2 linked regions of the Homo sapiens genome follow. The protein of the gene in region 1 purifies or fractionates together with the protein of each later gene. This does not show direct contact. Each region holds a gene or a part of one and is shown in the gene's direction. Other genes may lie near its edges. The genes, in order: PTPRR and TRIM11.

Evidence for each region.
Region 2: the proteins of PTPRR (region 1) and TRIM11 purify together in Homo sapiens (affinity purification with mass spectrometry; 2 studies listed by BioGRID and IntAct, with this or other methods). This does not show direct contact.

What each region holds. Positions count from the first base shown.
Region 1 is NC_000012.12:70,912,278-70,929,402, reverse strand, and holds the start of PTPRR (receptor-type tyrosine-protein phosphatase R isoform 1 precursor), read left to right. Parts: upstream 1-8,664; 5' UTR 8,665-9,012; coding exon 9,013-9,070; intron 9,071-17,125. UniProt on the Homo sapiens protein: Sequesters mitogen-activated protein kinases (MAPKs) such as MAPK1, MAPK3 and MAPK14 in the cytoplasm in an inactive form.
Region 2 is NC_000001.11:228,396,836-228,406,100, reverse strand, and holds part of TRIM11 (E3 ubiquitin-protein ligase TRIM11), read left to right. Parts: intron 1-3,939; coding exon 3,940-4,035; intron 4,036-4,906; coding exon 4,907-5,137; intron 5,138-8,935; coding exon 8,936-8,958; intron 8,959-8,991; exon of another isoform or gene 8,992-9,053; coding exon 9,054-9,154; exon of another isoform or gene 9,155-9,265.

The sequences.
Region 1 (17,125 bases):
ATGTAAAAATAATGTTAAAACTAACAATAATTATAGGTACATGCATGCAAAGACACACATATCCCCAAGATGAGGGTAGAGGAAAACCAGCTATGCCAAAGCATTAGCTGTATTTGTCACCAGTTGGTAGAATCCATAGATCACATTCTATTTTGTTTTTTCTCTATTGTCTATTGTGCAATAGACACAATATTACAAAATTTTGTACTTTAGAATGTTCAATTTCAGTCTGAAGAGAATTAATTTAGATGAAGGAAAACTGCAGAAATACCATCCTGGTTTTTGCCTACTTTCTAGAAATAGTGAGGTAAAATTGGGCTTCTATATATTATGTTTATGACTGATTCAAATAAAATTTCATTTTATTTCCAGTTTTGGAGCTGAATTTGGTTTTGAAAGGAATTCATTTTCTAATCTCTATGATACAAACCTAATATAAAATATGATTTTAGTTTAAGTTTGGAAGACAAATTTGAGGGTAGATATCTTTCCTAAAGTAAAGTACTTCCAAGATTAGAGGTTCCAAATGACACCTTTGTAAGAGAAATGGTTTATATTTTCTATTTCTATTAACAGTAAGGTAGTTTTTTTTGTTTTTTTGTTTGTTTGTTTTTGTTTTGTTTTTAAGATGGAGTCTCGCTCTGTCACCCGGGCTGGAGTGCAGTGGCGCGATCTTGGCTCACTGCAACCTCCGCCTCCCGGGTTCACCCCATTCTCCTGCCTCAGCCTCCGAAGTAGCTAGGACTACAGGCGCCCACCACCATGCCCGGCTAATTTTTTTTTGTATTTTTTTTTAGTACAGATGGGGTTTCACCATGTTAGCTAGGATGGTCTTGATCTCCTGACCTCGTGATCCTCCCACCTCGGCCTCCCAAAGTGCTGGGATTACACGCGTGAGCCACCGCGCCCGGCCACAGTAAGGTAGTATTTTGATGGGCACCTATCACATTAAATTGAATAAAAAAGGAATTTTACTTAAAAATAAAATGAAGCTACCTTCTATTTCATCCAAAAATAATAAAGTATCAAAATGATTTGCTTAAGCCATCCTAAGAAACAAGGAATTTGTCAAACTGTTTTCCTCCAGCATTTGGACAATAACTAACCCAAATATTCTGATGTCATTTGCCACACAGGAGGCTGAGAAAACAAAAATGCTTGCTAGGGCATTTTTCTCATTCTTTTCCTGCTTATATTTTTTTTCTTTTCTTTTTTTTTTTTTTTTTTAAGACAGAATCTCACTCTGTCACCAAGGCTGGAGTGCAGTGGTATGATCTCAGCTCACTGCAACCTCTGCCTCCTGGATTCAAGCGATTCTCCTGCCTCAGCCTCCCAGGTAGCTGGGATTATAGGCATGTGCCACCACACCCGGCTAATTTTTGTATTTTTAGTAGAGACGGTTTCACCCTGTTAGCTAGCCTGGTCTCAAACTCCTGACCTCAGGTGATCCATCCGCCTCTGCCTCCCAAAGCGCTGGGATTACAGGTGTGAGCCACCGCGCCCGGTCTCATTTCCTGCTTATATTTCTCATTCATATTATGTTAGCTTGACTTTTTGCTAGTGGTTTTAGTATAAGGGCAGCTCACAAAGTTTTTCTTTGTTTCTCAAAATGAATAAAATATCAAAATAGGCACCCACATTTCTAAATCAATAAGGTGTTTATTTTACACCAAAAACATGGAATAAAGAGCAGAATTCTTAGTTGGTACATCAGTTGGCTTTGGGTAGTCCCAATTTCTGAATCTTGTTAACGGCTTTGCTATCTCACAGTTGTATTTGAAATCAGTGAAACATGAATCAATGAAAATCTCTGGTGTAAAAATATTCATTTAAACTAATTTGGCAATTTGCCAACTGGATTTCTCTTTATATATTTTATATATTTACAGATATGCTGAAAATTATTTCTGATACTGTGGGGTTTTTTTTTCAGATTGGTTAAGATATCTATGGAATCATGAGAGTCTTTGCTGTAGCTATTCCCTCGGCCTAGGAAGTTCTTTAACCAGGTTTCTGCTCAGCTAATTTCAACTTCCAAGTCTTTCTCAATGCTCGCTTTCTCCACTTAAAGACCCTACTTAATTCTGCAAAATCCTTGCACTCATATTCTTCTCCCACCCCACCCCCACCTGCCTAATTCCCCTTACTTAGATCTACTTTTTCTGTTTCTCATAGCAGTCATCAATTTCCATCATACTATATAATTTACTTATTTCTTATATTTACTATTAAAGGTACATTTCACTTACAATTTAAGCTAAAGCAAAAATGTTAGTCTATTTTGTTCAACAATATATCCCAAGTACTTAATATACTTCCTGATGCATCATAGGTACTCAATATATAGTTTAATTATTTGAAATCAAGCAACATACCAACGAAATGTCGGCAGATGATTCCACTGTTTTTGGAATGTATGCGATATAGTATATCCTACCGTAATGTGACTTCAAATGACTTGACTTCACTGAACATAGGCACCCGTGTTGCCCTATCACATATGGTTTCTGATGAATGAGTCGAACTTAAAACCGTAAACAACTGCTTCATTGTCTGGGTGTATTAGTGGTTGTGTTATAGTCAATGGACATTTTTAGTAAGATTAACTCTTCATGTTATAGAGGTGCAGGTGTCTAACAAGAAAAAAAAATTTCTTCTGAAATGCTTTGCAACCACGAACTATAGACTAATAAACCACCCCATTCTCTATTATAGGCATCCAGCAGCAAGAATGAGTGAAAGAAATAAGTATTTTTAAAAAGTTTAAACTTTTATTCAATATTATTATTATTATTATTATTATTATTATTATTATTATTTTGAGATGGAGTCTTGCTCTGTTGCTCAGGCTGGAATTCAATGATGCTATCTCAACTCACTGCAACCTCCACCTCATAGGTTCAAGGGATTCTGCCACCTCAGCCTCCCGAGTAGCTGGGATTACAGGCATCCACCATCATGCCTGGCTAATTTTTGAATTTTCATAGAAACGAGGTTTCACCATGTTGGCCAGGCCAGGGCAGGTTTTGGACTCCTGACCTCAGGTGATCTGCCTGCCTTGGCCTCCCAAAGTGCTGGGATTACAGGTGTGAGCTACCGTGCCCGGCCTTAAACTTTTAGTTTTAAAGAATGAAAAGTCAACACCGGGGCCTGTTGTGGGGCAGGGGGAGCAGGGAGGGATAGCATTGGAGATATACCTAATGTAAATGACGAGTTAATGGGTGCAGCACACCAACATGGCACATGTATACATATGTAACAAACCTGCACGTTGTGCACATGTACCCTAGAACTTAAGGCATAATAAAGATATATATATATGCAAAAAAAAAAAGAATGAAGAGTCAGTGAGGGAGACATTAAGGCCTATATTTGGGAGATGTCCTTTTAAATCATCTTGTAATTATGTGAGAAAATAATGTAGAGAAATGAGAGCAAGATTAAATGATCTAATCAACCCACAGTTACAATCCCAGGATATACTTAGTGTCCCAGGCTATTGTGTGAACAAGTTGTTCCAAAGTGGCCTCATTCAAGGAAATCTAAAAGAATGGCCAACCATTGCAGAAAATGTATTTGAATGCTCAAAGTAGATAGTCTAAGCCATAACAGAGGGCTGTCACATCTGTGTGCTGCTCAGGATGATGGATAATATAAGTGCAGCCTGATTAGTGTCTTGGGATAAACAGAGAGCTAAAGCAGGAGAGTCAGAGGTTTGTAAATAAATCTATTACTGACATCTTGGATGAATCTGACCTTTGCAGTGCCAGAATAGATGACAATACAATACATTGGTACCAAGGGCTAGCTCCAAGAAAACTTTGTTCTTCGTTTTGAATAAAATTTTAATGATGAACCAATAGCAGAATCTATAGGTACATATAGCCTTTCTGCTTTTCATATTTTATGTTTTACTACAATAGCATAATTCACATATGCACAGAAAAGTATATCTGCCTTGTTTTAGGTACCTAATTTTTTTCCTTAGGATACATATTGCTGCCTTTGTGTGTGTGTATCAAATGCTTTAATTTAACAAAACTACAACTGTGTTAAGTTATAAAATGTAATTGTTGTTATCCATCTTGAAGTCTGTGTCTTGGGATAAGAACACTGTTTTCAATTTAAGTATTAAAATAAGTTCGGTCATTAAGCAGGGATGTTGTACAATACAGCTGATAACAGCATAGTGCTAGGGGTCACCATACCTGAGTTCTAATCCCAGCTTCACCACTTACCAACTGGATGGCTATAGGCAAATTACTAGCTTCGCTGAGCTTCAGTTTTCTCCTCTACTACAAAAAAAAAAAAAAAATAATACTTCACACAGCTCTTGTGAGACTTCAATGTGATAATATATATTTTTAGAATTTTAGTGCTTTTCCTCCCCTATTCTTATTGCCCCTTGCAATTTCATTGTTCTCTTCACTGTATGCTTATGAGAAAGGGTAGATCATTCTTCTTGTTATGGTTGGGAAAATACTAAAAAATAATAATGGTGAATTTATATACCTGAACATGGTATTTTCATCTGTGAATTTTGAATTCATTCCTTTTCATCCTGAGCTATATTCCACTCTGAATATAGCTTAATTCACATCAATTATTTACTTTGTAAAAAGAAATTATTTTTCTTCTTTTCTCCTCTTATAAAAGATAGCTCTCAGACAAAAGGAAACAGACTTTGGGATTGATAAAGTGGCTGCATAAAGGATGGGAAAGGGCAAGCACAGAACAAATCTTAGTGAGGTGTTTATAACTGTTACCTATTGCTCCCTTACATGTTCAGAAGTTCCTTGAATCCATTTTGCTGCTTTATATCTCTGCCACTGGCTCACACAATTCCCTGGCCTTTCTCTTCATGTAGAGCAGTTAGAACCTACTTATCCAGCCAGACTCAGTTCGTTTCCTGTTGCCCACCAGTTTCTTGCCTGCTGCCCATCCCCTCCTCTGCTCCCACCCTCCATAGAAGAAATCATTTCCTCCATTCTTCTCCATTCTATCTTAAGCATCTTTCTAACACAGTTCCTCTAAGCATGATTTTACTTGCTGTCTTTGTTCACTAGATGCTAGGGCCCAGAGTCCACTGCCACAAGCAGTGTCTCTTGTTCTCCTGGAGACAGTCTTCTATGAGTGTTCCTCAACACAGAGCTTTACTGTGGGGCCAGGCATCTCATGCCCAGCCCTGATCTAATCATCTAATTCTAGTGAGCAACCTACAACTGAGTGTGTGTGTGTCTGTGTGTGTGTGTGTGTGTGTGTGTTATTAGAGGTAGTATAATATAGTGGTTTGGTATCAAATTATCAGATGTACATCTTAATTCTATCAATTTACTTTTTAACTGATTACTTACTACTTGATTTTGGGCAAGTTACTTCTCCATGCCTCAACTATATTATCTCTAAAATGAGATCATTATAGTATCCTTTTGTAGAAATATTATAATGTTTAAATAGGACATCCAAATGCTTAGAATAGAACCTGGCACACAGGAAGCACAGTCAATGTTAGCCATAATTATACTTAAATAATAGTAATCTAAATAACTTAAGTAGGAGATCCTTATAATCAATGGATCTGATTTCTCAATTTAAAGTGTCTTAAGGAAAGATGGCTGACATGAATAATTTTCATCCATTTATAGAGAAGTAAATATGGATGCTCATAATGATTAAATCTGTTTTGAAGGCAGGCTCTGAAAAGCTTCTTTCTTGCATAAATTTTCTCTAAGACTCACCTCATAAGAAAAAGAAATTATGCATCTTATGTGGAGGAAAATTCCATATGATATTTTTTATTTATCTTGTAAAATGTAAATGATTCTTTTATGACATAGCTCTGTAGGCCACTACTAATTTGTATAGTTCTCTCATAGTAATTTCCATGCTTCTTTGAATTACAGCTAACTTTTTAAAACCCTGATGCAGTGTTTTAACCAAGCTTTTTTTCCAAAACACCAAGTCACCTTCACTAGCATTAGATCACAGTTAAGGAAAAACAGCACCTATCGACTCAGAATATTTCTGTATGAGTTAAGTGGTTGACTTTTTCACTAATTGGCTAATTCATTCATTGCTGTTTGACTTCACGAACAGCAATGAGTGAATTAGCCAATTAGTGAAAAAGTGAATTGAAGCCGTTACAAGTATGATATTAGATTGACTCACATAGGAATATGACCTTTTTCGTTACTTTATCATTTCTAAGTAAATTAATAATGAATGTCTAGTCACCAAAATTACAGCCCACTCAGGGTTATTTTTACCATGCTGAACTAACTATTCTAATGATATATCCAGCCAAATTGGAAATTGGAAATTTTTGCTGCTAACGGAATTTTCATGCATAGTTTAACAATTCAGCTACCTGCAGCCCTGAACAAAATACATTGCCAGCAGGATGCTTTTTGGCAAAGTCATAGTCAATTATAATAATGGGAATTTTAAATGCCCCACCAATAAATGTTGGAATTATCTGTGGAAAAGGAAGGGGTTCAGAACATTACTGCAGCATTGTTTCATTACCATAAGTAAGTATATTTTATTCTTGGAGATCTATGTAAGTTTGATAATTAGTTATTTTAGGAAACAAGAAAATAAGAAAAATAGACCTATTGTAAGTGGGATACAATTATTTTTCCCTAACCTCCAGCCCTGCAGCATTTCTAGTAACAGATGTTAGATGAGAAGAGTTATTCTTCTAAGCTTTACAGAATGCTAAATAAATTATCTCAAAGGTTGACTCAGTAAGAATTTCAAAGAGTTAATTGTCAGTATTGAACTTTGTCAACTATCATTTTCATTTATTCATTTTTGAGTATCTATTTTGCATGAGGCATTGCTCTAGGGAGTTGGGACATATCAATAAAGTCATCAAAGTTCTTCAACATTGGAGCTCAAATTCTGTTTTGCGGGGGGGAGTAGGGAAATAGATACTAAACAATAGATTTTATAAGTAATTATTTTGGTTTGTTAGAAAGTGATACGGGAAAAGCAAACTGGAGGACAGTGAATCAGGAATAGGAGAAGAGGTTGCAGCTTAGAGTGGTTTGGGATGAAATGATAGTGCCACAGAAATGGAGTGTGCCACACGCATGGGGGAGTAGGGGGTGGAGCACGTTGCTAGAGAGGGGCTAGACATGGAGATATGTCTCTATTTTCAGCAGAGAAGGCCTGTCAAGATATTAAAAGTACATCTCATTGTCCCCTTCTCCCACTTGTTGGAGTGCTTCCTGGCCTTGTCTCTCAGAGCTGAAGATGACATAAATCATAAAAGAAATAAATGGTACCGCCTGGGCTCTCTGATCTTATAAGGTCCCACCTAATTTAAGCTCTGGTGGATAGCCTATTTCCCATTAGTTGTCTCAATTCACAGAGGATGGAGAAAGAAAGCACTGAATGAGATGTGCAGCTCAACTCAATGGGCACTTGTTAGCCCCAATTATTTGGCTAGGACAACTTTATTCAAGTTAATGGAATACAAAACTCAGCAGTTCTTATGGAGACTTCAATGTGCTGTAGAACAAACCACAGATAAATGAACTGTCTGAAAGAATAATATGAGGCACGGCTAAACAAGTGTTGTGGAAGAGAAAGATCACTGTAATCTAGAGTTAGTTAGAGTTAGGGCTTTCTGGAAAAGTGAGACCAACATTACACCTTCGAAAACTAGTGTGGTGGTGGTGCAAGTGGAGGAAAATGGGAAAGAGGCAACAGTGTCCATAAAGACACAGAGGCAGAAAGGGCAGAGGCCCTGGGATAGTTAAAAGAGAAGTCTAGCTGAGGGACTTCTTGACTTGACTAGCAGCAATTAGCCATGACTAATAAGGCTTTCCACACTCCAAAGACTTAGATGGAGGGATAAAAAACCATCTAATGGCAGACTGTGGTAGCCTCCCTAGAGACACAGAGCTGGGCCGGATGAGTCCAGGCACTGACGTGATCCATTATCTTTCACCTTAAAGAGTAAAAGGGAAACTAAAGTTAATTACCTCCACGAAACAAAAAGGTGCCTTCTTGTGCTTCAATTACATGGATATATTCTACTAGTCTAAAAGTATCTTCTCACTTCTTTCTGTCACTGTGAGGACTTGAGTCAGAAGAAAGTTTAAATACAGTCATTGAGCTGGAAAGAGTGGAAAGAGAAGCAAAGAGGGGGAAGCTGTAGGAAGGACGAAGTCACCCCCAAGATACATGGTTACTGCTTACACCAAGCAAGCTGCCTTGGGAACGCTTCCCCCGAGCAGCCAGAATGCTCAGCAGTGGAAGACACCTCTATTCCTGTAGGCGAGTCCTGGGAAGCTGGTCAATCTGCAAATGCCAATTCCCAGCAGTGAGCTCGGTCCACGTGTAAATCAAGATTTGGGGAAAGAGTAGGGTGGGTGGCATGGTTGACAATGTCATCAGCTCCCTCCTCTGACTCCTGTGGTCGTGCCCCCATCTACTCTCACTCAGCTACACCCCACCTTCGGATTTGTGATGGACGCTGGGTCCCTAGTAACCACAGCAAGTGTCTCCCCCGCACTTCCCCCTTCCCCACCCCCACCCCCACCCCCAACCACCACCCCAGCGATGGAGCCTACTCTGCTCCAAGCCGCCGCTAAGACCCGGAGAAGCGGAATTTCACTTTGAAATTCCCTTGCCTCGTGAGGGCCGGCGCTGGGCATGCTCAGTAGCCGCGGCGCTGCTGCTGGGCTGCTGGGCTGGCGCGGAGTCCACCCTGCCGTCTCCGCCTTGGCTTCTGGGCGTCCAGAAGGCCAGGCATTTGCCGCCTCTGAGCGCTTCTGTTCCCCTTACCCGCAACCTCCTACTGCTCTTCCTCTCTCCCTCTCTTAGGGAGGTTGAAGCTGGTGCTGGTTTCTGTCGGCGCCACAGACTGACTGCTCTGCAAACCCCAGCCGAGGACCTGAATCCCGGAGACTAGAAGACCCTTGGCGGTGGCTCTTTCTAATAGCACTTTACCTGAAGTGGGGTCGTGGTGGAGTTTCTCCTCCACCTCTCAATGCAAACACTATGCGGAGAGCAGTCTGCTTCCCTGCGCTGTGCCTGCTCCTTAATCTTCACGCTGCAGGTAAGGGGTTGCCAGGCTTAGAGCCGGAGCTGTGCATGAGATGGGAAACTGCACATGCTTAAGGACTCTAGGAAAAGCTTGCCTTGCGAAGAAAGCCTTTCTAAAAAGGTAAAACAGGACAGTACCTGACAGGGAAGGGGTGAGGGAGTCGTGCACCTGTTGGAAAACTGAGGCCGAAAACTTAACCTAAAATTAGCTCTTGATTTTTCTTTACTTTATACGAAAATAGTGAACATTTTCAATATGAATACAGGTTTGCTCCCCCCTTCGCCTCCCCTCCGTCTAGATTCCCTGCTCTTGTTTCTAGGCTATGCACTTAACTGTCAATTTTTCAGGAGAGGGATAAGACATCCTGCTAGATGTAACCTTTTCTACTGCAGCGGCTACTACATTCATAAGGTCTCTTGGTCTAGCGAGCGCTCATAGGAAGGCATTGGCTGTAACCTGATGGACCACATCTCCGCCCAAAAGATCGAAATACATGGTTCACATTAGTGATGCTGCACCAGGCTCCTTTGGCCCCTGCTCTTGTCACTCGAATTTTCTAAGCCAATAAGAGGAAGAAAAGGTTTCAAATAGAATCCTCTTGTCTCTTTCAGCACCGTGGCTAGCGTCCGCTGGCATATTAAAAAAAAAAAAAAAAAAAAAAAAAAAAAAAACAATTACAGTTCCAAAGCTGACAACCCTGGGTTAGGCACTGTCCCTCGGACAGATTTGATAAGGTGTAACCAAGAGTAACAGTGAGACTGCTCCCAAATATAAATAGATTTGAGGCACCAGAATCAATATCAAGTCTCGTGAGGAAGCAAACCTTGGGAAGTACCTGAGAGATATTATATGTGGTGTCCCTGCTTTTTGCATACATAGCACCTCTATTTAATGCAGACAGACTTGCTAGGCTGAATTCCTTATCATTGTCACACACACATGAACCAAAATAAAATATGGCAGGGAGATTTTAGAAACCCTACTGTGACAGCAGTTGTCCATGCAGTAGTCCTGTAACAACCAGAGACGAGGCATTTTCCCTGAGTGTGCTTCTCATCCAATCACACATATCCATTCATTCCTTCAAGCAACATTTGCTGAGTGTATACTATGTTCTAGGGGTAATGAGTAAAAATAATTGTTCTGAAATTACAATCCTTGCAGTATCTTTTTTAAAAGAGTGGGTGAATTTTATTCTCTGTGTACAATAGTAGGAGTGAAATATGGTACTTTCTTATTCCAGCTAACGCTATTATTTAAATGTATCATGAATCTTTTGAGCAAATAATGCATAGGATTATTAAAGCTATTATTAAATACACATGTTAATTGTTATAATTATGATGTTATATTGTGGAGTTTTCAATAGTTCTTTGGCACATTTTGAGAAGTAGAAAATAGCTATGACTTGATTATTAAATTATTTGCAAACAGCTGTAGTGAATTATTTCGTTACCACATACAATTCTTCAATGCTGAAATGTGGGATGAAAACATACACATTGGGTTGAGTTTTATTTATAGTATTGCTTAATAATAGACTGACACAAACATTCATTACAGAAAAATCTCAATTCTTACTAAGGTAGCAATGATTTAGCTGGTCTGCCAACAATATCAGTGTAGTCATTTTTTCAAAACTAACATATAAAAAAGTTTAAAGATCACATTTGATACATCTTGAGTAATTATATCTTAAAAGTTATAAATAAACTGAAGCATGTGAAAAACATGTCTTGATTTACTGTAGATGAATATTCGGGATGAGAAAAATGAGGACTTTTGCTCATCAGATGAGAAACCTAGAAGCCTGTAGCCCTAGATTTTACCTGGAGTTCTGCCAAAGGGTATATTACCAAAGCCAATCCAATCCATCTCTACTTCAACTTTTTAATTTGCAAAACAAAGATAAAAAGTAAGATTAATCAACCAATTTTAATTTAATAAGAAAATGCATTTAAGGACATTTTTATATTTCAATTGCAAGATACTATTCATTGTATTCATATTTAATATAGTAAAATACATTGGTGTTTTATCACAGCAGATTGTAAGTTTAATATTATAGTTCTCTTGCCAATTTCATTTTAAATGCATTTTAATTTTAAACAGCAATTTGTGGGTCACAAGCTGTCATCAGATTAAAATTTATCACAGTTATCTAATAACATTGTTAGGGCTTTTCATCAGAACTAAAACAAACACAGCTCCTTGGTCTAAGCTTCTATACATTTGGAGATTAAGAAAATAAGTGGATGGGATGACAAAGATCAAGAAATCAAGATATTAATCTCTACTTGTTGAAGGTGTGAGTTTGTTACTTTTATGGAAGACTTTTCTCTCAGAACAGAGGCTGACTTCATAAAGAAGGGAAATGAATTCTATACATTCAGGCCTCTTTAACTGTAAAGCTAATTGATCCATTTTGGTTACGCCCAGGGTATCAGCAACTGCTTTATGCTGGTGGAACTGATGACACCTTATAATGCTTTAGAGATGGGAGGAATGTGCTAACGGGATGTAAGTGTTCTTTTTAGCTATATTAGGAACTGTTGCCTTCAATATAACCATGCCTGTAATGATAAGTAGCAAACTGCTTGCAACTTGAGTGCCATCTCCCATTATTTTGCTTATGGTTGCCTAAGACACCATCGGGGGGAAAAAGAAGATTATGACTCGCATTCTGGCTAGGGAGAAGTACTGTGGTCTATAATAGCTGTGGGAGAAAAATGAGGAGTGGGTACCATGCTGTGTAAGTGGCATCTCTGGGTAAATTAACACTAAAGGATTACTAAGCATGGTTCTTGTTAGAGAAGCTGGACACTACTCTACCCATGGCAGCCGATTTTTATAGATCACCTAACAAGGAAGTTGTGGTTATTGTCCATCCAACTGCTTATTTTACAGGTGAGAAAATGAAGATCTAGAGTATTAAAGTGGTAGTTAATAGCATAGTCGGGATAAAAGCCCAGGTTTCCAGACCCGTGGTTGCATACTATATAAAATTATACACTGGTTCTACAATAGGTGAGGCCACCATTGATTAAGTTAGTGGTGCAAAATACTTTTTACCTAACTGTCCTTATTCTTTACTCTTTCGTGAACCAGTTTAATATATAAACTCCAGTTGAAAATACCACTTCAGGAATATTCAAGGAGGCAATTAAAAGCCACCACAATAATACGAATGGTAAAAAAATATTATGTGGAAGATCCACAGAGCTTATTTTCTTCAGCATTTCTCCTCTTCCTTTGTCCAAAGAAGCATATTCCATTTGAGGAGATATTATTTATAGTGTTGTATTTTAGTTGCAAAAGAGTACATTTTTGAGATATATTAAAAATTCTCATGTGAAAGCTTTCTTTTTCCTAGGGAATGTTTTGCTAACAAAATACAGAAACTGATTTCAATCCATTGCTTTCTCTTTGAGTTCTGGAAAAGGTTCTTTCAAATTTCTGTGTTGTTCTTGCTATCAGCCTTTTTGAATGGCACAAAGACTGCCTTCAATGTATCTCCTGAAACTATCTCTTCACTCTCAGAGAAGTGCATAGTCAATTTCCTTAGACTCTAAGAAGAAAGGTATTCTATGATAGTACCAAGAAGATCTGGGAGGTGATTTGCAGAAGTACCACCCTCAAAAGAAAGGATAGACTAACAGGTAAATGATATATTTTAAGATTTTAAGATGTTCCTTAGAACTCCAGAATTTGTTTTTCCTATTGAAAATCTCTCAGAGAAGTGCATAGTCAATTTCTCTAGTCTCTGAGAAGAAAGGTATTCTATGATGGTGCCAAGAAGATCTGGGAGATGATTTGCAGAAGTACCACCCTCAAAAGAAACGATAGACTAACAGGTAAATGATATATTTTAAGATTTTAAGATGTTCCTTAGAACTCCAGAATTTGTTTTTCCTATTGAAAATCACTCAATATAGACCTTACAATGGTCTAGAGTCTCTCTCCACATTATTTCTATGATATTATCTCTCACTACTTTCTTCTTTTTTTACCTCTCTCCAGCCATATTTATCCTTCTGTTTCTAGAAGATGCCAGGCACTCACCCTTTCATACTGTTTTGCTTTTTTCTTTCTCCAGGTGTCTCCACAGCTTAATCCCACAATAATTTTAGAACTTTAATTAAATATTACCTTGTTAATGAGGTTATTCTATTTCATATTTCATTTTCCCTTCCCCCCATCACCCAGATAAAAATTCTAGCACCCTTTCCCTGCCTAACTTTTCTTTCCCCAGAGGTCTTCACCACCCAACATACAATATATTTTACTTTTTTTATTGTAGTTTCCCCTCTCTGTATTAAAATGTAAGCCCATTTAGGGCACATATTTTTGCCTGTTTTGTTTATTATTGCATGTATTAGAGGTCTTGGGCTACCTAGTACCTGGGGGCAGTTCCTGACATAAAATCTTTCTAAAGATTAAATAAATAAGTTAAATAAATAATGTAATACAGTGATATTTCTGGTCTCTTCTTTTTGCATTTAATATCTTCTTAACACCCACAAAAAACACACATAGTCCACTTAGCCACTTCTGGAATGGACTTAAACAGCTCATTTGTCCAAAACTCATGTTGCCTCACATGCCCCCAAAACACACTATCTCTAACAGATTTTGCTGTCATTGTGAACTGAAGGGCAATAAAGGATGGGTTTGTGTTAGACCAGAACTACTAATCAACTCAGTGAAAAAAGTCTTTCAAACTGATTGCCAGATATTGTGCAGCCCAAATTCTTTGCTGATTGGCTACATTTTCACTTCTCAGTGAAATGCCTTGTACATGTAGGAATGGCTACAGGGATCAGCTGATTTACAAACAGAGAGTCTAATACACTAGAAAAAACTGATTTGCTTCTTTGGTACTTAAGAGACACAGGAATATGTATATTGGAGATGACATATTTCTAGCACCTCCAATAGAATAGCACCTCACATATTCCATTGAAAATCACATCCTACCTAACACCTTGTAAAAATTCTGGGATGCATTATGCACATTCAGCCTTTTCTTCTTTATTTCTCACCTACTTCTCTATCAGCTTCCGTCCTCATCCTATCATCCTATGGTTGAACATAATTAAAGAGGTTATTGTAATGTATGTTCTTGTTATCAATGCATTTCTATAGTACTTATATATTTTGACCCCTTTCTGAATTTTAAAATTTTTCCTCACTTGACTTCCACAGACAGTCATTACTTCCTAGCTTCCCTCTTATTTCTCCAGCCATTTCTCAATTTGTACTTTTAGGTCTTCTGCTGTGTATTATTTAATGGTTAGTGCTCTCTACAGCTTGTCATTGATTTTTTGTTATTTTTCTCTGTATACAATCTCCCTGGATAATTATACTCAGACTTGCACGTCAAAGATTCCAAAATCCACATTTCCATCTCAGTTATCTCCCCTGAACTCTGGTTCTATATTTAAAATTACCTAGAAGTCATTGTATATTCCATAGTAATCTTTTTGTTTTTGTTGTTGTTGTTGTTGCTGTTGTTGTTGTTAGAGACAGGGCCTCACTCTGTTGCCCAAGCTTGAGTGCAGTGGTGCAATCATGGCTCCCTGCAGCCTCGACCTCCTGGGCTCAAGCAGTCCTCCTGCCTCAACCTCAGAGAGTGCTGGGATTACAGGTGTGAGCCACAGTACCTGGCCCCACAATAATCTTATATACAACTATTTTTACTCAACACTTCTCAACACAATTACTCTGATAAATATTCCCTAACATTGTGAATAACACCAGGATTCTTCACAATGACCCAGGTCTGAAACAAATAATTGATCCTAGATCATCCCTTTGCTACTTTCATCTTAAAGGTTTCAAACTCTTCTCATAAGATGTTCTCCACTCTCCATGATCATGTCACTGCCTTGAGACAGATCCTTATTTCTCACATAATATCTTGTGATGACCTCCTATCAAATTTATTCTTTATAATAATGTCGGAGGTGAAACTCTTAAAAGCATACCTGATCATATTCTTTCTCCAAAAAATTCTTTAATACAGCTATCTCCTTTTCTTTTAGAATAAACTCCAAACTCATTAGGAAGGCAGTCTTTTGCGATGAGGTCTTCTCATCTTGCCCTCCTTTGCACACTAATATCACACTAAGACAAAATTTCCTTTGGTTTGCCATGTCTTGAATCATTTCACATACTGTTCTATTTCTCTTAAATACCAATACTCTGCTCCTTTTTTTAGATGACTCTTTCTCCAACTTCAAATGTTGATCAGGCATAGCCCACTTTGAGAATCTTCTTTTTTTTGGATGACTCACCTCATTCAAGTAGCTCTCCTACATTTCCCTTTTCAATCCTGTATATTCCCCTGTCAATGTACTTAACCTGTATACTGAAGTTTTTTGAGAACAATAACACAATTGCAGCTTTATTTCTATATACTTATTCCCTAGAACTATGCTTGTTACCTAATATGGCATCAGTAAGTGTTCAATGAATGAATACATATATTAAATATATTTGTTAAAATGAATTGTGATAAATTAATTTACATTGACCAAGAGATTATATCTCATCTTCATGACCATAAAGAAGGTAATTGACTTTACTACTGCCACCTTAGTGCAATTTACACTTATTGACAACAAGGAAATGGAGATGGGACAGAAAATTTTCTATGTAAATACACTCCATAAGATAAGTTTGTGTCCCATGGGCATGATGCTATTTGTAGTGTACTTGTGTGCTGAACTCTTTCTAGATGGATAGACATTCTTGCATGATTTTCCAGTACTACTTAAGAATAGAATGAGATTTTTTTTTTACTTTAAAGAGCTCAAAGAGTTAGATAAACAACATAGCATGATAGTTGTCCACTACAGAATGGACCCGGAACTCCTAACCCTGATTACTGATTGGTTATTATCTACCTATAGCAAATACAAGACATTTACACATTCAAAATCAGGTGGGAGTGTGAGACAGTGGCTTCAATAAATCAAGACCAAAAATTATTCAACCCTCCTTTTCTCTCTGAATTAAAAACCAAATCATCACACAAAATGTCTGAATATTTGAGTGGTTGTATACATTTTTTCTCTCATTTTGTGTGTATACAGTCTTTATAGAACCATAAAGTTTTTGGATCCCACATATTTTTTCTCATAGAAGACATTCTTACACCTGAAGAATGGAGACTATTTTGTGAATTATTTAAAAATCGCTTTATGTGAGATGATCAGATCACAAATCAAAAGCCCATTCATTGCCATTAGTATTAGAGATAACACGGATGTTATATTTTATGGCAAGTTTATTGTTAAATCTTAAAAGTTGTTCTGTGAGTCAAATTCAAAAGCTAGTGAAAGCCATTTTTTCCTTTAAAAGGGGATTTGAAAGATTCTACTTGGCCCATGAGTGCATTTTTCATCTTCAAGGCATTTACAAATGCTGACACACTTAGAGTAGCATTGATGTTTCCCAACATAAAGGATGTTAGTAGTTTCGAAAAATAAAGATGTAATGCTAAAATATTATTTTAAGATCAAATTTCCTAATGCTTATGTACCATATAATGTAACTATAAGTGCCTACTATAGTAATGATATTTGCCACAAAAGGACAATTAGCAAATTTATATTATAAACATTAGCACTTTCCACTTAAATCATTTTTATTCATAATGACTGCATAAACTTTCCTCATAATCAAATCTCATTTGATTTTAATATATTAAGATGTTGATGTCCATTAAAATTGCAGCCACATGGACCAACAACAAAGCAAAACTATTATTTATATTATGCAGCAGTCTAGAACTTAGCAAATGCCAAGTTCATTGGGGACATGAATTATTTTTTCCTATTTCTATTTTATTTTTTATTTCCTTTTTTTCAGATCTAAAGCAATGTCCATTTTCTGACTTAAATGAGAAGACTGGCCTCAGGCAGTCCTAAACTACTGATTCTTTGGAAAGGAGCATTTAATGAGCACAGAGTAAAAGCATCTCACAGTGATTCACTGGACTGTACAGCAATATGTACAGAGCAAGACTCTACAGCTATTTCACTGTACTAATGATCCAATTCC
Region 2 (9,265 bases), on another chromosome or scaffold:
AGGCCTGGGCGGGTGGGAGGTTTGGGGGACTGCTCCGGGAGTAATCTGTCTCTGTCTAGGGCGGGGAGCTCAGGATGCAGCCTGCTGTGGGCCTGTGAGGGGGGTGTCGCGCAGGGTGGCTGTGGGGGCTCATGACACAGCCTGTTTCAACCAGGCCCCTTGAGGCTGGGACCATGGCCGCCAATGAGACCCTGCTCTCGGGGGTGAGGGGCGTACCTCTCATAGATAGAGGCTAAGAGAGGAAGGTGGAAGGTGGAAGGTGGTGGAGTGGGGGCAAGGAAAATGTGGCCATACCCTGGCCAGCAAGGAGCTGGAATCAGAGGAAAGTGGGAGAACCTCAGAGGTGGCCGATCCTAGATGGACTCCCTGCAGGGACTGTGTTAGCAGGTCAGTACTTAAGTCCTGGGAAAGCCCCAGACTGGGCAGGATGAGGGGGACACAGTCGTTTCCTCTCTAACCTCCCCTCCAGGGCTGCCCTGCATTTCTGGGTGGGGTACTGGGAGCCATCTCTGCCATCTGAGATGCCAGGGCTCAGCCTGCCTTTTCTCCCCTTGTCTTGCTGCTTAAAACCCAAATAAAACCCGAGCTGAAGGGCCTGGGGCACACGTTCCCTGGCCTGCGCTCCCTCCCGCTGTCCTCTTTCCTCGCTGACCTGCTGCAGGTGTGCTCCTGGGAGCCTACGTGTGGGGCAGATGGCAGCATCTTTGGAGCTTTCTTGATTGCACTTTGTGTGTTGCATCATGGTCACTTGTGTGTGCCAGATGAGCAGTTAAGGCAGTGTTAGAATCAGTACTGAGCTTGATCTGTCCCTATCACAGAGCAAACTTCTGGGATACTAGAATAAATCTGAATCTGTCCCCTTCTGCTTTGGATTTTAGCAGAAAGGTGGTTTAGAGCCATATCCGTGGGCTTGTTCAGACACAGATTCATTTGGGTTTTCTTTTCTTTGCCCATGCAGGAATGTCTACACCTGAAACATGTTAGCCCAGCAGAATTACCCTTGTGACACCAATTACCCCAATGGGTGCAGAGAGTGCCCAATAGCTCTATAGAGTTGACTCGATATAGTTTCATGGGATAGCACTTAACCCTTTCTTTTGCAGGTGAAGAAAAAAATTTCCCTCTACCCTGTTAGGTTCAGTGGCTCAGGGCTGCAAATTAAACTGGCACAAGACAAATTAACAGGAAAAAAAATCATACAATTTGATTAATATTTTAAGTTTCACATGCACAAGAACTTCATAGAAAAGCGTATTTCAGCAAAGGTTTGTGAATTGTGGAGAAGTGACTGGACACAGAAATGGGATTGGGCGTCTAGGACTGATAAATTGTGGGAAAGTGACTAGGAAATAGATGGGAAGAATTAACACAAGATAATGGTCATTGTAGTAAGGTCTGTTTAGGCAGAATCATCTCCCAGGATTAGAGTGCCCTCCTCTTCCTGGTAGAGAGAGGGTGCCTTTCTCATGGGGAATGAATACCCTACTTTTAGGCAGATAGGAGTACAGAGAGCTCTTCCTGCATCTGCTTTTACTCAGAATAATTCTTGTACCACAGCGGTATATTTGGGGATGACATCCTGTTCTTCACTGCCTTAGAGCCTAGGTTATGTTAACCACAGCAAACTGCTTTTACCTGCCCCCATGGGCCTAGAAAGCTCAGTCCCACCTATGGGGCTGTGTGTCCACTTGCCAGAGCTGGGGCCCATTAGCTCCATGACAGGTTCACTCCTTGCCTGGCCCTGACCTGGGGTCATGACAGCTGAACAAGCCCCAGGCTGGGTTGCCCCGAGGTGGTAAACAGGGAAGTCCCAGTAAGCTCCAGTTCCAGGAAGCAGCACCATGGGAGAGAGAAGATGGCCCCCAGATCTCTCTGGGTTGTGTGTCAGATGGCACTTGTGTGGGGAGGGGGTTTGCCACAGGAAGGAGGAGGCCAGGGAAGATCCCAGGCCTGCACCAAGCCCCAGCATCCCAGTTCTGACTACACGCAGGGTAAGAGGTTTCTGTTCTGATCTGGCCAGAGACACAAAGATGCAGGTACCTGAAATGCAAGATCTTTGCCATGCTGGGTATGTTGTGCTGCTTTACAGCCCATTCCATCTGATCAAATGCTGTTTGTAACCTTAGTGTTGAAAACTGAAAACGTTGGCCAGGTGTGGTGGCTCACGCCTGTAATCCCAGCAATTTGGGAGGCCGAGGTGGGCGGATCACCTGAGGTCAGGAGTTTGAGACCACCCTGGCCAACATGGTGAAATCCCATCTGTACAAAAAATACAAAAATTAGCTGGGTGTGGTGATGGGCACCTGTAATCCCAGCTACTCAGGGGGCTGAGGCAGAAGAATCACTTGAACACAGGAGGCAGAGGTTGCAGTGAGCCGAGATCGTGCCACTGCACTCCAGCTTGGGGGACAAAGCGAGACTCCGTCTCAAAAAAAGAAAACTGAAAATGTCCCGTAGGGACTGAGGCATTGAGGGAGAAGTGAGAGGCACTGGGCCAAGTGTTTGAGGTGGGGTTGGGGTCACAGGGGCCAGGCCTGAGTTTTCTGGAACAGGTCGGCAGCAGTGAGGAGAGAGGCCTGGGGACAGGGACCGCCATTTGGGGTTCTTGTAGCTCACGTGAGAGCTGAGCCTAGGCAGAGACAGTAAAGCAGTTGGACATGTCCTTGGTGCTCCAGCGGTCTTCCCGAATCGTGAGGCCAAGTGGTGAACTAAAGTGAGCACCTGGAGCCAGGCAGCTGGGCTGAAGTCCTGGCTCTGCTACCGGGGCAGACTTCTGGACCCTCCCAGCACCTCCATCCTTCCAGAGCGTGGATAGCGAGAGATGAGAGCCAAGACTTGGGGTGGCTGAGAAGCAAAGAGGTGTGGCCAGCACAGGGCCCGTTGCTGATAAGGGTGTCAGATGGGGTGGAAGTGAGCAGACCCTTCGAGAAGTGGGTTCAGGGCACCCCAAGCACACACAGTACAGTGAGCTTGTGTACAGGATTTTCACTGCTTCCTGGTATGCACAGCATGAGGAACCGTGGGAATGAGAATTAAGGACCAAGAAAGCAGAATGGAGGTGTACCCATCCTGGAGCTTATTACAGTGATAGCTGATGAAGCTGAAAATGCACAAGGTCCCGAGTGGCTTGGAGAAAAGATAGGGTGGGTAGCCAGGCATGTCTGTCCGTGCTGACTGTCCTACCAAAACACCATGGTTTGCACATGGCAGATGTATACAAGCTGGAGACTCACAGCTCTGGAGGCTGGAAGTCTAAGATCAAGCCCTGGCAGGTTTGGTGTCTGGTGAGGGTGCTTCCTGGTTCACAGACAACACCCTCTCACTGTGTTGTCATATGGTGAAAGGGGCGAGGGTTCCTTTATAACACTAATCCCATTGTGGCGGCACTGCCCTCCTGACCTAGTCACCTCCCAAAGCCCCCGCCTCCTAACATCATCACACTGGGTGTTGGGATTTCAACCTATGAATTTGTGGGGGCATAGGGCAGAATTTTTGGACCCCAGCATAGGCTTGGTCCAAGGCCCTTATGTGAGCCAGCAGGTGAGAAGGAAGAGGAGGAGGAGTAGACACTGGCTTGGGAACAGGAGAGCTCAGCACCTTCAGAGCCAGCTTGGGGACAGATGGGGTGGGCAGCCAGAACCCTTGAGGTAGCTTTGCAAAGGGGGGTGAGGCCTGGGCTAGGGTAGCAAGGTCGAGGACTAGAAATGCCCCATATGAGAAAAAGGAAAGAATGTGGCTGGGGCTGTCAGCCTCTGGCAAGAGGCTGCCCACCTACCATGAGGGCTCACGCTTATTGGAGGGCATTGAGTTCCCTGATTCACCAGGCAGATTTCAGTTTGTCCCCATTGTCTTTGAGGAGGGGACAGGGTGTCAGGTGCAAAAGGGCAGGCTTCTGTGACAGGACTCATGTCTCATGGTCCTGCCTGGCCTCTCCCGCAGGCGAAGCTGGAGAAGTCACTGGAGCATCTCCGGAAGCAGATGCAGGATGCGTTGCTGTTCCAAGCCCAGGCGGATGAGACCTGCGTCTTGTGGCAGGCAGGTGCTGGGGCTCCCAGGGTCCTGGGTGGCAGGGTAGGGGGTGAAGGTCCTGTATAGGAGACCCCAGGGGGCGATGCTGGCCAGGCACACTTGCCCTTGGCGCCCCAGGACCAGTCACTGCTTCAGCCTGGCCCCACCGAGCCCACTGAAGGGCTGGTCCTTTCCCACGTGCACCTGTCCTGCCAGGTCGTGGGCGTGGGCTCCCATACTGCAAGGGCCCCATCCTGGGGTCCCAGCATGCTTGGGTGGCAACTCTCAGGTGTATTTAGGGTCTGGGCCCTGGAGGTAAATTTGGAGGTTTTGAGGGACTAGGTCATAGATGTGGGATTCAGCCATCCTGAGGAGTAGATTTGGGATCTGTCCAGTTCTGGGGTAGATTTGGGGTCTGGGAGGCTCTGGGTGGTGGATTTGGGATCTGGGAAGCCCCAGGGGAGAATTTGGAGGTCAGGAGGGACCCTGGGTGGTAGATTTGTAGTCCAGCTGGCCCCAGGTGGTAGATGCAGGGTTCTACCAAGCCAATGGGTGGATTTGGAAGTTGGGGAGGGACTAGATAGTGGATTTGGGATCTAGTCGGCCCTGGGTTTAGATTTGGGGTCTAGCCAGTCCTGTGTGGTAGAATGGGATTTGGCTCTCCCTGAGTGGTGGATTTGGGGTTTGGGAGGTGCCACAGGTGGGTTTGGGGTCTGGCCAGCACCAGGTGGTGGGTTTGGGGTCCTGCCACACCTGGTGCTGTGCTTTGGCTTTAGCAGGCCCCGGGGGTGGGGTTGGGTGCAGCCAGGCCTCTGGGTGGGCTTGGGGTCTGACCAAACTTGGGGTCTGGCTGGGCCTGGGGTCTGGCCTCAGCTGTCCTTCTCCCTGGGCTCCACAGAAGATGGTGGAGAGCCAGCGGCAGAACGTGCTGGGTGAGTTCGAGCGTCTTCGCCGTTTGCTGGCAGAGGAGGAGCAGCAGCTGCTGCAGAGGCTGGAGGAGGAGGAGCTGGAGGTGCTGCCCCGGCTGCGGGAGGGCGCAGCCCACCTAGGCCAGCAGAGCGCCCACCTAGCTGAGCTCATCGCCGAGCTCGAGGGCCGCTGCCAGCTGCCTGCTCTGGGGCTGCTGCAGGTGAGCTGGGCGGGGAGCAGCCATGGTGGCCACACGGGCATGGCCTGGCCACACTGGGGGAGGGAGAACCAGAAAGTGCAAGAAGCAGGGGCAGAGAGGTTGTCTGGGCTGAGAGGTGAATGGCATGGCTGGATGTGCCTGGCTGTTGCCTGTGAAATGCTGAGTCAGCAGCAGGACAGATGTCCCACCCCCAAAACCCACGTGCCGAGAAAGGGAAAATCAATTTTCCTCTGTAGATGTAAACAGTTGATGTTTCTTAAGTGATTACATAAGGTCACTCCATCTCGTCCTGACTGACACTGCTGCTCCCTGTGGGCACAGCAGAGTGGGCATGTGCTCGCTGGGACCACCTTGGGCCTCCCATAGGATTCCTGCCATGGTGTCCCCAGCAGGAAGTCCTCGCCCTTCACTCTGTCTTCACCCCGCTGGCACACCCCATGCATCTCCATTATGGGGGGCAGTCTCCTCCTCCTCTGCTTCCAGGAGAGTCTTTTCCCATGTGTGGGCTCCACTCCCTGAGCCGGCCCCCTGGGCCTGGGCTTTCCTTGGTGCACCCCCAAACCAGAACCAGTGGACGCCCTGGCCTGTGGCCTGGCGGCAGGTCAGGGGGCCTGGAGTCAGCTCTCTCCGCTTGGCAAGCGTGCACTGATGAGGACTGACGGCACTCCCATGCTGAGAGGCCCCGTGTGGGCTGGGAGTGTCTGCTATCATCTTCCCGTGGGGTTCAGCTGGATGTTTTTCCCACAAAATGGAGAACGTGTTCCATGCCCAGCATGGTGTAGACTCAAGGGGCCCCAAGATTCAGAGGGAAATGGGCCCCTGGGCAATTCTGGCTCCCACAGAGGAGAGAGGCCGTGTGTGAGTGAATTCAGCCACTGGTGGGGCAGGGCTGCCAGACCCAGGTGGAGCCCACAATGCTGCAGATGTGGCTGGGCGGCTTTGCACAGGGGGTGACCTGCTGCCGGCCTCTGGAGCCCAGCAGAACATCAGTCCAGGCACCGGCTCCTGGTTTCGATTGTCATTTCTATTGTAAGCTTTTTTCTGTTTTTTTGTTTTTTGTTTTTTTTTTTTTGTTTTTTTTTTTGTAGATTTAAGGGGTACAAGTGCAGTCAGAGTGTAGCCATCACCCGAATGGTGCACACTGTACCCAGTAGGTAGTTTCCCCCACCTCCAAGTCTGCAGCATCTGCTCCTCCACTCCGTGTGCCGCGTGCACCAGCTTGGACATCAGCTGGCTTTGAGCCTGGGAAGCGGGAAGGACGCTCGGCTAGCGTCTGTAGAAAGACTGAGGAATATTAGGAGAGGGTCCTGTGGTCAGTAAATTGTGGGGTGGGGAGGTACCCAGAAGACTGAGGAGGAGCCCTCAGGGAGGGCAGAGAGGACAGGTGTTGGAGAAGCCAGGAAGGGTTTAGAAGGAAGGTGAGTTGACCTGGAAATGGGGACCCACAGGGTTTGTGTGAAGATGCAATTTGGGCTTTCAGCTGAGACATTGTGGCATGTGGGCGGGTGGGTGGGTGTTGGGTCTCATACACCCACCTGCATTCACCCCGCTGAGTGGCCCACCCGTCCATGCCTTGGCCAAGCTCCCTGCCCAGGTTTGGCCTGGCTACAAGGCTTCAGGGAGGTCCCTCCTGTCCCCCCAACCTGCCAGCACATGGCCTGCATGCTGTGGGGGTCTGCCCACATGGGGGTTGCAGGAGAGCAGCCTCAGCAGCTCTGTGTTGATGTGAGCTGTGTGCTGGTTTGAGAGGGACAGGTGGGGATGGCTTTGCACCCTTGGCCCCCGGTTGGGTAGGGGAACCCAACCCGGGTTCCCAGCACCCAGGCCGAATGGACAGGGGTTGCACAGTGGAGGTAAAGGCTTGAGTGACTCCCAGGAATCCACCCACTGGGGCTCTGGCTGCTGTGGACTCTGGGGCCCTGGCTGCTATGGACTCTGGGGTCCTGGCTGCCCCCTTCAGCAGGCCCTGCTTGTAGCCGCAGAGTGGTTTTGTTCAAGTCAATGCTGCCCCTGGAGGGCCCGTGTTCTGTGCAGAGACCAAACCCCCTTGTCGAGGCCAAGGTTCTCCTCTACCCCCAAGCCCTTCTCCTGCCGCCCCTGCACCCGGCCTTGTGACAGCCACCACCTGTTTCCAAATGACACCAGGGGTGGGCCGCCCACCCCAGGTAGAATAACCAAGGTGGAGCTGCTCCCAGCTGCCTTGCTCACACCAGCACCATCTGCCCCTGCCCTGTGCACACCCCTCCCTCACCCTGCGCACTCCCCCTGTGTCTACCAACAAATTCTTCTTGGGCTTCAGAACCCTACCAAGAGTCTCCTCTTTATTTATTTATTTATGAATTATTTATTGAGACAGGGTCTCACTCTGTCGCCCAGGCTAGAGTACAGTGATGTGATTATGACTGCAGCCTCGATGTCCTGGGCTGAAGCGATCCTTCCATCTCAGTCCCCTGAGTAGGTGGGACTGTAGGCACACACCACCAAGCTCAGCTAATTTTAAAATTTTTTTTTAGAGATGGGACCTTGCTGTGTTGCCCAGGCTGGTCTTGAACTCCTGGACTCAAGTGATCTGCCTGCCTTGGCCTCCCAAAGTGCTGGCCTCCTTTTTAAAAAATTTTTGGGGCCTAGAGTGTGTTGTTGTCCCCCTAGACAGAATTAACTACCCGTATGTGTGGAAATCTTCCTTTGCCATTTCTCCTACATGTAGGGAAACCCTTGTCTGGGATTATGTCTTACTGACCTCTGCATCCTGGCCTGGTAGCTGGCACCACGTGTGTTAGAATGAACATGGTGTGGGATCGTCTATTTGACAGTGTGGGTTAAATCCTTGCAGTGCACTGAAGACTGCTCTAAGAGATACAAGACCGTGTCTCCTAAGAGCTGATGTTCCAATACCTGGGTGTATCACGCCAGCTCGGGCTGCCACATTTAGTACCACCTGCCAGGAGGCTTCCCCAGCAGAGACTGATTGTCTCCCAGTCCTGCACACTGGAAGACTGAGGTCAAAGCTGGTTCCCCCTGAGGCCTATCTCTTGGGCCTGTAGATGCCTTTTCTTCCCTGTATCCTCACAGGGTCTCCCCTCTGTGGGTGTCTGTGTCCTAGTCGCCCCTTCTTATGAGACTCAAGTTATTTTGGATTGCAGCCCACCCTAATGGCCTCATTTTACTATGATTTCCTCTTTAAAAGCCCTTTTTTCTAATAGTCAAGTTCTGAAGTCCTGAAGTTTCTGGCTTCAACATACGGATTTGGCGGGATGGACACAATTCGGGCCCTAACATGGAGTCAGATGCTATCACGTATCAGGCAGTGACACAGGAAGGACGCACGCCCAAGAGTGGGGCTGAGCAGGGAGCCTGCAGGGCAGGTGGAGCTGGGAGAGGAAGCAGTGCAACCACAGGGTTGGGCTCCAGCTGGGGTGGAGGTGCCCCTATGCTGAAGGCTGGGATGTGTGCCTGTCCTGTCCTTGGCACCCAGAGGCGCCCACTTGGGGCTCTGGGTGAGTGAGCCAACAGCCAGATGCCCTACATCCAAGTGTCAGGCAGAAGTGGGCCTTGGTCCGCAGGGCTGGGCTGCACCCCATTGGTGATGCCTCCTGGCACACATGTCAGAGCCTCTGTCCAGCATTCCTGTGTCTGAGCCTTGCTGCGGGTGGTTTATGGCCCCCTGTGTGTGTTTTTGCTGCCTGACGCTCAAATGTAGGAGAGGGGGACGGGGCGAGGCTCCAGGGGCGGGGAGGGGACTCCAGGAGCAAGCGATGGTCACTGACACCGAGTGTGCTGTTTCTCCTCCCCACATAGGACATCAAGGACGCCCTGCGCAGGTACGAACCCAGCCTCTCCTGGAGGGGGGGCAGGAGGGAGTGGGGTGGGACCCAGCTGTTGGCCATGGCGACAACACCTGGGTTGTCCCCTCTAGGGTCCAGGATGTGAAGCTGCAGCCCCCAGAAGTTGTGCCTATGGAGCTGAGGACCGTGTGCAGGGTCCCGGGACTGGTAGAGACACTGCGGAGGTTTCGAGGTAGGTGTGGAGGCCCCAGGTGGGGAGATGACTCCAGGAGGGGACCTGCCAAGGACCTGGGCAGCCAGCCACGTGTTCTGTGCCCTGCCACTGCCAGCTCCAAACTCACAG